Linked DNA regions of Homo sapiens. The protein of the gene in region 2 purifies or fractionates together with the protein of the main gene of each other region. This does not show direct contact. Each region holds a gene or a part of one and is shown on either strand. Other genes may lie near its edges.

What was found. Proteins that work in one complex are often made in the same cells at the same time.
Region 1: the proteins of QNG1 (region 2) and NAXD fractionate together in Homo sapiens (co-fractionation; one large-scale study listed by BioGRID). This does not show direct contact.

What each region holds. Positions count from the first base shown.
Region 1 is NC_000013.11:110,628,524-110,633,496, forward strand, and holds part of NAXD (ATP-dependent (S)-NAD(P)H-hydrate dehydratase), read left to right. Parts: intron 1-4,973. UniProt on the Homo sapiens protein: Catalyzes the dehydration of the S-form of NAD(P)HX at the expense of ATP, which is converted to ADP.
Region 2 is NC_000009.12:83,946,090-83,951,062, reverse strand, and holds part of QNG1 (queuosine 5'-phosphate N-glycosylase/hydrolase), read left to right. Parts: intron 1-4,973.

The sequences.
Region 1 (4,973 bases), on a different chromosome or scaffold from region 2:
GTCTCTGAGGCTGCGGGGCTTGAAGGCGGCGAGTGATGGAGCCAGCAGTGCAGGATGAGTCATCTGAGGGGCAGGCAGACGCAGGCTGACACTGCACAGACCAGGAAAAGCGGCGTGGAGTCAGCACGGGAGCCCGTCTTTGAGCTTTAAGGTCTTACCCGCTCACCGGGAAGGAGGAGGTGGCCATGTTTAGGAGCAGTAGAACCCTCTGTCATCCCCGGGGAGAGGCTCTCAATGGGGAGTCCCATCTGCAGGCTGCGGGTCTGCGGTGCACGGCTGCTGCTTCCTGTCCAGCTCTGCATCCTGGGGGTGCGGATGAATTAGAGGTGAACGAGCCAGAGTGCTCTGCTTCAGGTTATTTTCTTTGTGAATTTAAGTTCACAATTTAAAAACTGGTATCTTAAAAAACCACTGTACTGCGTGGAAGTGTGAAAGGTGGGAAGTGAGGGTGTGCGTCGCTGCCCCTGCAGCCCAGACTCTGGACCTTGCATTCTGGTTCCTGTACACTGTTGCCGTGGTCTTGAGAGCCCTCAGGTCATCTAGCGTGGGCTGCCGCCTCCTCGTCAGCTTCCAGCTCGTGTCTGGTGCGGAGCAGAGGCTTCCTACTTCGTCGACGTTCCTGAATGAGGTCATCATCTGGTGTAGGCCTGAAAACAACCCGATTAGGTAGATTCCTATTCATAGCCCCATTCTTCTGATGACAGATTGAGTCCTGGCAAGGATTCAAGACGCCCGTGGGATCTGGTAGCAAAGAAACTGCAGAGATGGTTTTTTAAAAACGACTTTATTTAGATGATTTACCTACCATACCCCTCACCCATTTAAAGTGAACTATGCGGTGGCTTCAAGTATATTCATAGTTGTGCAACCATCACCATGATCAACCTTAGAATATGTTTATTGCCTCCAGAAGCAGCCCATCCCCGTTAGCATCTGCTCCCTGTTCCCCAGTCTCCCCAGTTCCTGGCAGCCACTCAGCTAGTATGCTTTCTGTCTCTCTGGATTCGCCTGTTCAGGACATTTCATATGAATGGAATTATGCAACGTGTGCTATTTAGTGATTAGTTATGTCACTCTGCATAATTTTATATTTAGAGTTACCTGTGTTGTAGCATGTATCAGTATTCCATTCCTTTTTATATCTAATATTTCACTGTATGCATACACCACCTTTGGTTTATCTGTTGATTAATTTATGGAAAATTGGTTTCCACTTTTTGTGTGGATGTGTTTTCACTCTCCTGGGTGTTAAGTGTTTCACATTTTGAGGCCCTGCCACTGTTTCCCATAGCGGCTGCACTATTTTCCATTCCCTCTAGCAGTGTGCGAGGGCTCTGATTCTCCACATCGTTCCCAGCACTTGTTACTGTTGTTGTCTACTTAGCAGCCACTCTAGTGGGCGTGGAGCGACCTCACTGTGGTTTGGTTTGCGTTTTCCTGGCAGCTGATGCTGTTGAGCATCTTTGCATGTGCTCATTGGCTGTTTGGGTATCTTTTTTTTTGTTTTTGTTTTGTTTTGTTTTTGAGACATATTCTCACTCTGTCACCCAGGCTGGAGTATAATGGCGTGATCTTGGCTCACTGCAATCTCCACCTCCTGGGTTTAAGTGATTCCTTTGCCTTGGCCTCCAAGTAGCTTGGACTACAGGCGCCCACCATCACACCCAGCTAATTTTTGTATTTTTAGTAGAGATGGGGTTTCACCATGTTGGCCAGGCTGGTCTCGAACTCCTGACCTTAGGTATCCGCCCGCCTCAGCCTCCCAAAGTGCTGGGGTTACAGGCGTGAGCTACCATGCCTGGCCTCTTTGGGTATCTTCTTTGGAGAAGTGTCTATTCATACCCTTTCCCCACTTTGAAAACTGTTTTTTGCCTTTTTTTTATTGACTTTTAGGAGTTCTTCATATACGTTCTAGACACAGGTTCCTTATCAGAGAGACGATTTGCCGATATCCTCTCATTCTGTAGGTTGTCTTTTCACTTCGATGGTTTTGTTTACAGCACAGTTTTTAATTTTGAAGTCCAATTTAGCTGTTTTTTCTTTTGTCCCTTGTGCTGTTGGTGTCTTATCTCAGAAGCTTCTGCCTAACCCAAGGTTTACTCCTACATGTTAAGAGCCTTATTGTTTTGGTTGTTACTTTAGCTCTGCGGTGCATGTCGAGCTGATGCTGGTGTGGTAGGAGGAGGCTCCAGCGTCAGTCTTTTGCTTGTGGGTGTCCAGCTGTTGCAGCACCATGTGCTGGAGAGACTCCTTTTTCCTCCCAACTTGTCATCCTCCCTGACAATCCGTTGACCCTAAATGTGAAGGCTTATTTCTGGACTGTTGTTTCTGTTTTGTTGATCTGTACAGCTGTCCTGCAACTGCCCGGTCTTGACTGCTGTGGCTGTGTAGGAAGCCTTGACGTCGAAAGCCCGAGTCCTCCAAATTCGCTCTTTTTAAGGTTGTTTTGGCTCTCCTGGGTCCCATGCATTCCAGTTTTGGATCAGCTTGCTGATTTGTGGAATAGGCAGCCGCAACTTTGGTAGGGATGATGTTGAAACTGAAGATCAGTTGGGGGAATGTCTAACAACATTAAGTCTTCTGGTTCCTGGGCTGGCTTTGAACCCACGTTGTCTGAATCTGGAGCGCAGGCTCTTGACCAATGCACCTGTCCTCACACTGTGCTCTTTGCACACTCGTTAACAGTGTGTCCTGGAGACTTTTTCATGGAAGGATATGTGGATACTCATTATTTTTAACAGCCACATCAGAATTTATGGATCTACTACAGTGTATTTAGTTCATTTACACTGTTTTCAGCTTTTTCTTCATGTTAACATCAGTGGTGTCCTGAATCTATGTGTTTTGTGCACTCTTTTGGGTGAAGTTCCATTGCTGAATCAGAGTAAGGACGTTTAAATTTTTGAGAGATGCCCCCAGATTTCTCCCTAGTGTACCAAGGTTTGCTTTCCCATGGGTGGGGACACCCTTCTGCGCTGGGTGCTCTGATGCTGCAAACCTTTCTAGGAGACCCATGTAACATTGCATTTTCCAGGGTTTGAATATTCACTTTTGAGTACTATTTGCAAATACATTAAAAGAAAACACAGAAACAGATGAAAATGTCAGATTGTTGCCAAATACTGCAACATGAAATCAGAAACTGATCTAAAATCTGAATTAGCAAAAGCCTGCCAGTTTTAACAGTAAAGCCAAACTCAGGGCAAGCAGACAAAGAATTTTTATTGTTAATAAAGGGAATAATAAACTTCCATGAAGTCTCAGGTACCTGCCTCCCTGGAAGGGGCTTCAGGACACACTGCTAATGCTCGGACCAGTGTCAGAGCCAAATACACACTTTCCTATGGCTGGAATGTGCGTCATAAACAGGCTGAAATGAGCACTTTGTTAGGCGAGCAGCTAATGCTTTGTCAGCTTTCAAATTTCATTTAATATACACGGCTTTAGTTTTCAATACTTTAAATTATTCTTAGCATGTATTTTTATGTCCAGAATTGGTGGGTTCTTGGTCTCACTGACTTCAAGAATGAAGCCGTGGACCCTCGCGGTGAGTGTTACAGCTCTTAAGGTGGCGCGTCTGGAGTCTGTTCCTTCTGATGTTCAGATGTGTTCGGAGTTTCTTCCTTCTGGTGGGTTCGTGGTCTCTGTCTCAGGAGTGAGGCTACAGACCTTCGCGGTGAGTGTTACAGCTCTTAAGGCAGCGCGTCTGGAGTTGTTCGTTCCTCCCGGTGGGCTCGTGGTCTCGCTGGCTTCAGGAGTGAAGCTGCAGATCTTCGCGGTGACTGTTACAGCTCATAAAAGCAGTGTGGACCCAAAGAGTGAGCAGTAGCAAGATTTATTGCAAAGAGCGAAAGAACAAAGTTTCCACAGCGTGGAAGGGGACCCGAGCGGGTTACCAATGCTGGCTCGGGCAGCCTGCTTTTATTCTCTTATCCGGCCCCGCCCACATCCTGCTGATTGGTAGAGCCGAGTGGCCTGTTTTGTCAGGGCACTGATTGGTGTGTTTACAATCCCTGAGCTAGACACAAAGGTTCTCCACGTCCCCATCAGATTAGTTAGATACAGAGTTTCGACACACAGGTTCTCCAAGGCCCCACCAGAGCATCTAGATACAGAGTGTCGATAGGTGCACTCACAAACCCTGAGTTAGACACAGAGTGCTGATTGGTGTATTTACAAACCTTGAGCTAGATACAGAGTGCCGATTGGTGTATTTACAATCCCTGACCTAGACATAAAGGTTCTCCAAGGCCCCACCAGAGCAGCTAGATACAGAGTGTCGATTGGTGCATTCACAAACCCTGAGCTAAACACAGGGTGCTGATTGGTGCACTCACAAACCCTGAGCTAGACACAGGGTGCTGATTGGTGTGTTTACAATCCCTGAGCTAGATATAAAGACTCTCCACATCCCCACCAGACTCAGGAGCCCAGCTGGCTTCACCCAGTGGATCCCGCACCAGGGCTGCAGGTGGAGCTGCCTGCCAGTCCTGCGCCGTGCGTTCGCATTCCTCAGCCCTTGGGTGGTCGATGGGACTGGGTGCCGTGGAGCAGGGGGTGGTGCTCGTCGGGGAGGCTCGGGCCGCACAGGAGCCCATGGAGGGGGTGGGAGGCTCAGGCATGGCGGGCTGCAGGTCCCGAGCCCTGCCCGGCGGGAAGGCAGCTAAGGCCCGGTGAGAAATTGAGCACAGTGCCGGTGGGCTGGCACTGCTGCAGGACCCAGTACACCCTCTGCAGCCGCTGGCCCGGGTGCTAAGTCCCTCATTGCCCCGGGCCAGCAGGGCTGGCCGGCTGCTCCGAGTGCGGGGCCCGCCAAGCCCACGCCCACCCGGAACTCCAGCTGGCCCGCAAGCGCTGCAGGCAGCCCCAGTTCCCGCTCGCGCCTCTCCCTCCACACCTCCCTGCAAGCTGAGGGAGTGGGCTCCAGCCTTGGCCAGCCCAGAAAGGGGCTCCCACAGTGCAGTGGTGGGCTG
Region 2 (4,973 bases):
TGACTTCGGGTGATCTGCCCACCTCGGCCTCCCTCCCAAAGTGCTGGGATTACAGGCATGAGCTACCGCACTTGGCCTATGTTGTTCTTAACTTTTGTAATCCTTGAACTTTCTATTTATTCATGATAAAATTATGGAATAATTTTTTCAAAAAACTTAACTGTCCAGGTGCGATGGCTCTTTCCTGTAATCCTAGAACCTTGGGAGGCCAAGGTGGGTGGATCACTTGAGCCCAGGAGTTCAAGACCAGCCTAGGCAACATGGGGAAACCTCATCTCTGCAAAATAACAAGAAAATTAACTGGCCTTGGTGGTGAACACCTATAGTCCCAGCTATTCAGGAGGCTGAGGTGGGAGGATTGCTTGAGCCCAAGGAGGTCAAGGCAGCAGTGAGCCGTGATTGAGCCACTGAATTGAGCTACAGCCTAGGCAGCAGTGAGGCCCTGTCTCAAAAAAAAAAAAAAAAAGAAAAGAAAAGAAAAAAATTAACTCATGGTCATAGAGCTTTTTATTGACAATTATTTTATAAAGGTACGATTTAGAAAATATTTAAATCACAAAACAATATCATGAAACATGTAAGCAATTGTTATTTGGAGATTTACTAGTAGTTTTAGTGATACCAGTTAATATTTTAGAGATCCAGAATTTGATTACAAAAATCATTTGATTTCTAAAACCATAATGAGCTTACCAAGAAAATGTTTTATAGAGATGGCCAGGCGTGGTGGCTCATACCTGTAATCCTTGCACTTTGGGAGGCCGAGGCAGGTGGATCACAAGGTCAGGAGTTCAAGACCAGCCTGGCACACGTGGTGAAACCCCGTCTCTACTAAAAATACAAAAATTAGCCAGGCGTGTTGGCGCCCATCTGTAATCCCAGCTACTCGGGAGGCTAAGGCAGGAGAATGGCCTGAACCCGGGAGGCAGAGGTTGCAGTGAGCCGAGATTGCACCATTGCACTCCAGCCTGGGCAACAGAGCAAGACTCCGTCTCCAAAAAAAAAAAAAAAAATAGGAAAATGTTTTACAGATTACTTGAATTTATTTTTGATTCCTCCCTTAAATCTTTTTGTTCTTTTTTATATTAATATATTATTATATCTATTATAATCTATTCTTTATATATACTAGTCTGCTACCATGGAAACAGCAGTGACATGATAATTTACATGTTTTCTTAGATGCTAGCACTGATTTTATTTTTATTTTTTGTTTTTTTCCATGTGGGTTGCTATGTAAGTTTGATTTCTAGTTTTTTCCATTTTGCTCTATGAATCTTGTTAAAAATAGCAGATAATGGCTTCTATCTATTATAATAAACTTGATGGTGTAGTAATTGTGTTTAATAGACATTTTTATAAGTTAAGTCTTATGTCTTGCTGGGTTTTTTTTTTGTTTGTTTTTGTTTTTCCCTTGAGACAGAGTTTCATTCTTGTTGCCGAGGCTGGAGTGCAATGGCGTGAACTCGGCTCATCACAACTTCGGCCTCCCGGGTTCAAGTGATTCTCCTGCCTCAGCCTCCCGAGTAGCTGGGATTACAGGCATGTGCCACCATGCCCGGCTAATTTTGTATTTTTTTTAGTAGAGACGGGGTTTCTCTATGTTGGTCAGGCTGGTTTCAAACTCCCAACCTCAGGTGATCCACCCGCCTCGGCCTCCCAAAGTGCTGGGATTACAGGCATGAGCCACTGCACCCAGCCATGTCTTGTGTTGTTTTATAAACTAGACTTGAACTAGAAACCTGGTTGCCATATATAAATCCAGTTTATATAGAGGAACAATTGCCAAGTTGTCATATTTAGATAGGTTTAGGAATATAGGGTGATAGCATAATGTAGGAATGTTTTAAATTGTGATTTGTTCCTTCAGCCCCTTAATTTAATTTAGAGACATTACACCATTTTCTCAGAAAATGAGAATGTATACTTGCTCTGGAAAACAAATTCTGACTTTTTTTTTTTTTTTTAGTATTTATTGATCATTCTTGGGTGTGTCTTGGAGAGGGGGATTTGGCAGGGTCATCGACAATAGTGGAGGGAAGGTCAGCAGATAAACATGTGAACAAGGGTCTCTGGTTTTCCTAGGCAGAGGACCCTGCGGCCTTCCGCAGTGTTTGTGTCCCTGGGTACTTGAGATTAGGGAGTGGTGATGACTCTTAAGGAGCATGCTGCCTTCAAGCATCTGTTTAACAAAGCACATCTTGCACCGCCCTTTATCCATTTAACCCTGAGTGGACCCAGCACATGTTTCAGAGAGCACGGGGTTGGGGGTAAGTTTATAGATTAACAGCATCCCAAGGCAGAAGAATTTTTCTTAGTACATAACAAAATGGAGTCTCCTATGTCTACTTCTTTCTACACGGACACAGTAACAATCCGATCCCTCTTTCCTTTCCCCACATTTCCCCCCTTTCTATTCGACAAAACCGCCATCGTCATCATGGCCCGCTCTCAATGAGCTGTTGGGCATGCCTCCCAGACGTGGTGGCGGCCGGGCAGAAGGGCTCCTCACTTCCCAGACGGGGCGGCCAGGCAGAGGCGCCCCCCCCCTCCCGGACAGGGCGGTGGCCGGGCGGAGGCGCCCCCCACCTCCCTCCCCGACGGGGCGGCTGGCCGGGCGGGGGGGCTGCCCCCCACCTCCCTCCCGGACGGGGCGGCTGCCGGGCTGGGGGCTGACCCCCACCTCCCTCCTGGACGGGGCGGCTGCCGGGCGGAGACCCTCCTCACTTCCCAGACGGGGCGGCTGCCGGGCGGAGGGGCTCCTCACTTCCCAGGCGGGGCGGCTGCTGGGCGGAGGGGCTCCTCACTTCTCAGACGGGGCGGCCGGCCAGAAACGCTCCTCACCTCCCAGACGGGGTGGCGGTCGGGCAGAGACACTCCTCAGTTCCCAGACGGGGTCGCGGCCGGACAGAGGCGCTCCTCACATCCCAGACGGGGCGGCGGGGCAGAGGCGCTCCCCACATCTCAGACGATGGGCAGCCGGGCAGAGACGCTCCTCACTTCTTAGATGGGATGGCAGCCGGGAAGAGGCGCTCCTCACTTCCCAGACTGGGCGGCCGGGCAGAGGGGCTCCTCACATCCCAGACGATGGGCGGCCAGGCAGAGACGCTCCTCACTTCCCATACGGGGTGGCGGCCGGGCAGAGGCTGCAATCTCAGCACTTTGAGAGGCCAAGGCAGGCGGCTGGGAGGTGGAGGTTGTAGTGAGTCGAGATCACGCTACTGCACTCTAGCCTGGGCAACATTGAGCACTGAGTGAGCGAGCCTCTGTCTGCAATCCCGGCACCTCGGGAGGCCCAGGCGGGCAGATCACTCGCGGTCAGGAGCTGGAGACCAGCCCGGCCAACACGGCGAAACCCCATCTCCACCAAAAAATACAAAAACCAGTCAGGCGTGGCGGCGAGCGCCTGCAATCCCAGGCACTTGGCAGTCTGAGGCAGGAGAATCAGGCAGGGAGGTTGCAGTGAGCCGAGATGGCGGCAGTACGGTCCAGCCTCCCCTCGGCATCAGAGGGAGACCCTGGAAAGTGGGAGACGAGGGAGAGGGAGAGGCAAATTCTGACTTTCTTAAATGTAGCTTTAGAAGTTTTAATTTATTTAGTATAATAAAAATAGGTCTGGATCTGTTACAATAGGCATATCTTAAGGTTAAGCAATATTAGGTTATTTCTTGTTATGACAGGGTATCATTGGCATTTTCTTAGTAAATAAAAGAATCTGTAGTGTCATCTTAAGGAATTTTTATATAGAGCCTTTCCTTAAACTTTTAATCTCGTATTTATTTGTTTATGTCATTTACAAGTTAAAATATTCTCCTCCAAGGTGGTCAGGATATATTTTGGGAGCTAGTAATATTGATAAACATTTATAAAACATTATTTAAGGTTATTACTATTGGTATTAGGACTAGTAGTTGATTGTAATTATCTATGTTTTTCCATAATCTAGGCTGATTTGCATTTGTAGATTTACAGAGTGTTTTTGGGGTGTTGTTTTTTGAGATAGAGTCTCAGTTGCCCAGGATGGAGTTTAGTGATGTGATCACAGCTCACTGCAGCCTCTACCTCACAGGCTCAAGCAAACCCCCTGCCTCAGCCTGGTGAGTAGCTGAGACTACAGGCACGTGCCACCACGCCTGGCTAATTAAAAAAAAAAAAAAATTTGTAGGCCAGGCATGGTGGCTCATGCCTGTAATCCCAGCACTTTGAGAGGCCAAGGCACACGGATCGCCTGAGGTCAGGAGTTTGAGACCAGTCTGGCCAACATGGTGAAACCCCATCTCTACTGAAATATGAAAATTAGCCAGGTGTGGTGGTTGTAGAGACAGGGTTTCGCCGTGTTTTGTAGAGATGGAGTTTCATCGTTTTCCAGGCTGGTCTTGAACTTCTGGCTTCAAACAATCCTCTGGCTTTGGCCTCCCAAATTGATGGGATTACAAGTGTAAGCCACCACACTTAGCTAGAATTTTTTAGTTAAATTATAACCCACTAATGCTTGGTTAAATTTGTCTTTTCTATGTATAAATATAATTGGCTATTTTATTTTCATATTTGGACTTACATATCAACTTTGAGCATTTCCAAAATTGGTAAATATGATCATTTTCTAGCTGTTGATCAATTAATGTCTTCATAAAATAAGTTAATCATATTATCTGAAAGGAAACAGTTAAAAATGAATGTTGTGGTTCTCTTCAGACCTGAGCTTATGGATGATTATTCTTTGTATGTTGCTGTATTTTTTTTTAATTATTATTATTTTTGACAGAGCCTTGCTCTGTTGCCCAGGCTGGAGTGCAGTGGTGCGATCTCGGCTCACTGCAACCTCTGCCACTCAAGTTCAAGCAATTCTTCTACCTCAGCCTCCTGAGTAGCTGAGACTACAGGCGATCGCCACCACACCCAGCTAATTTTTGTATTTTTAGTACAGACGGGGTATTACCATATGGGCCAGGCTGGTCTCGAACTCCTGACCT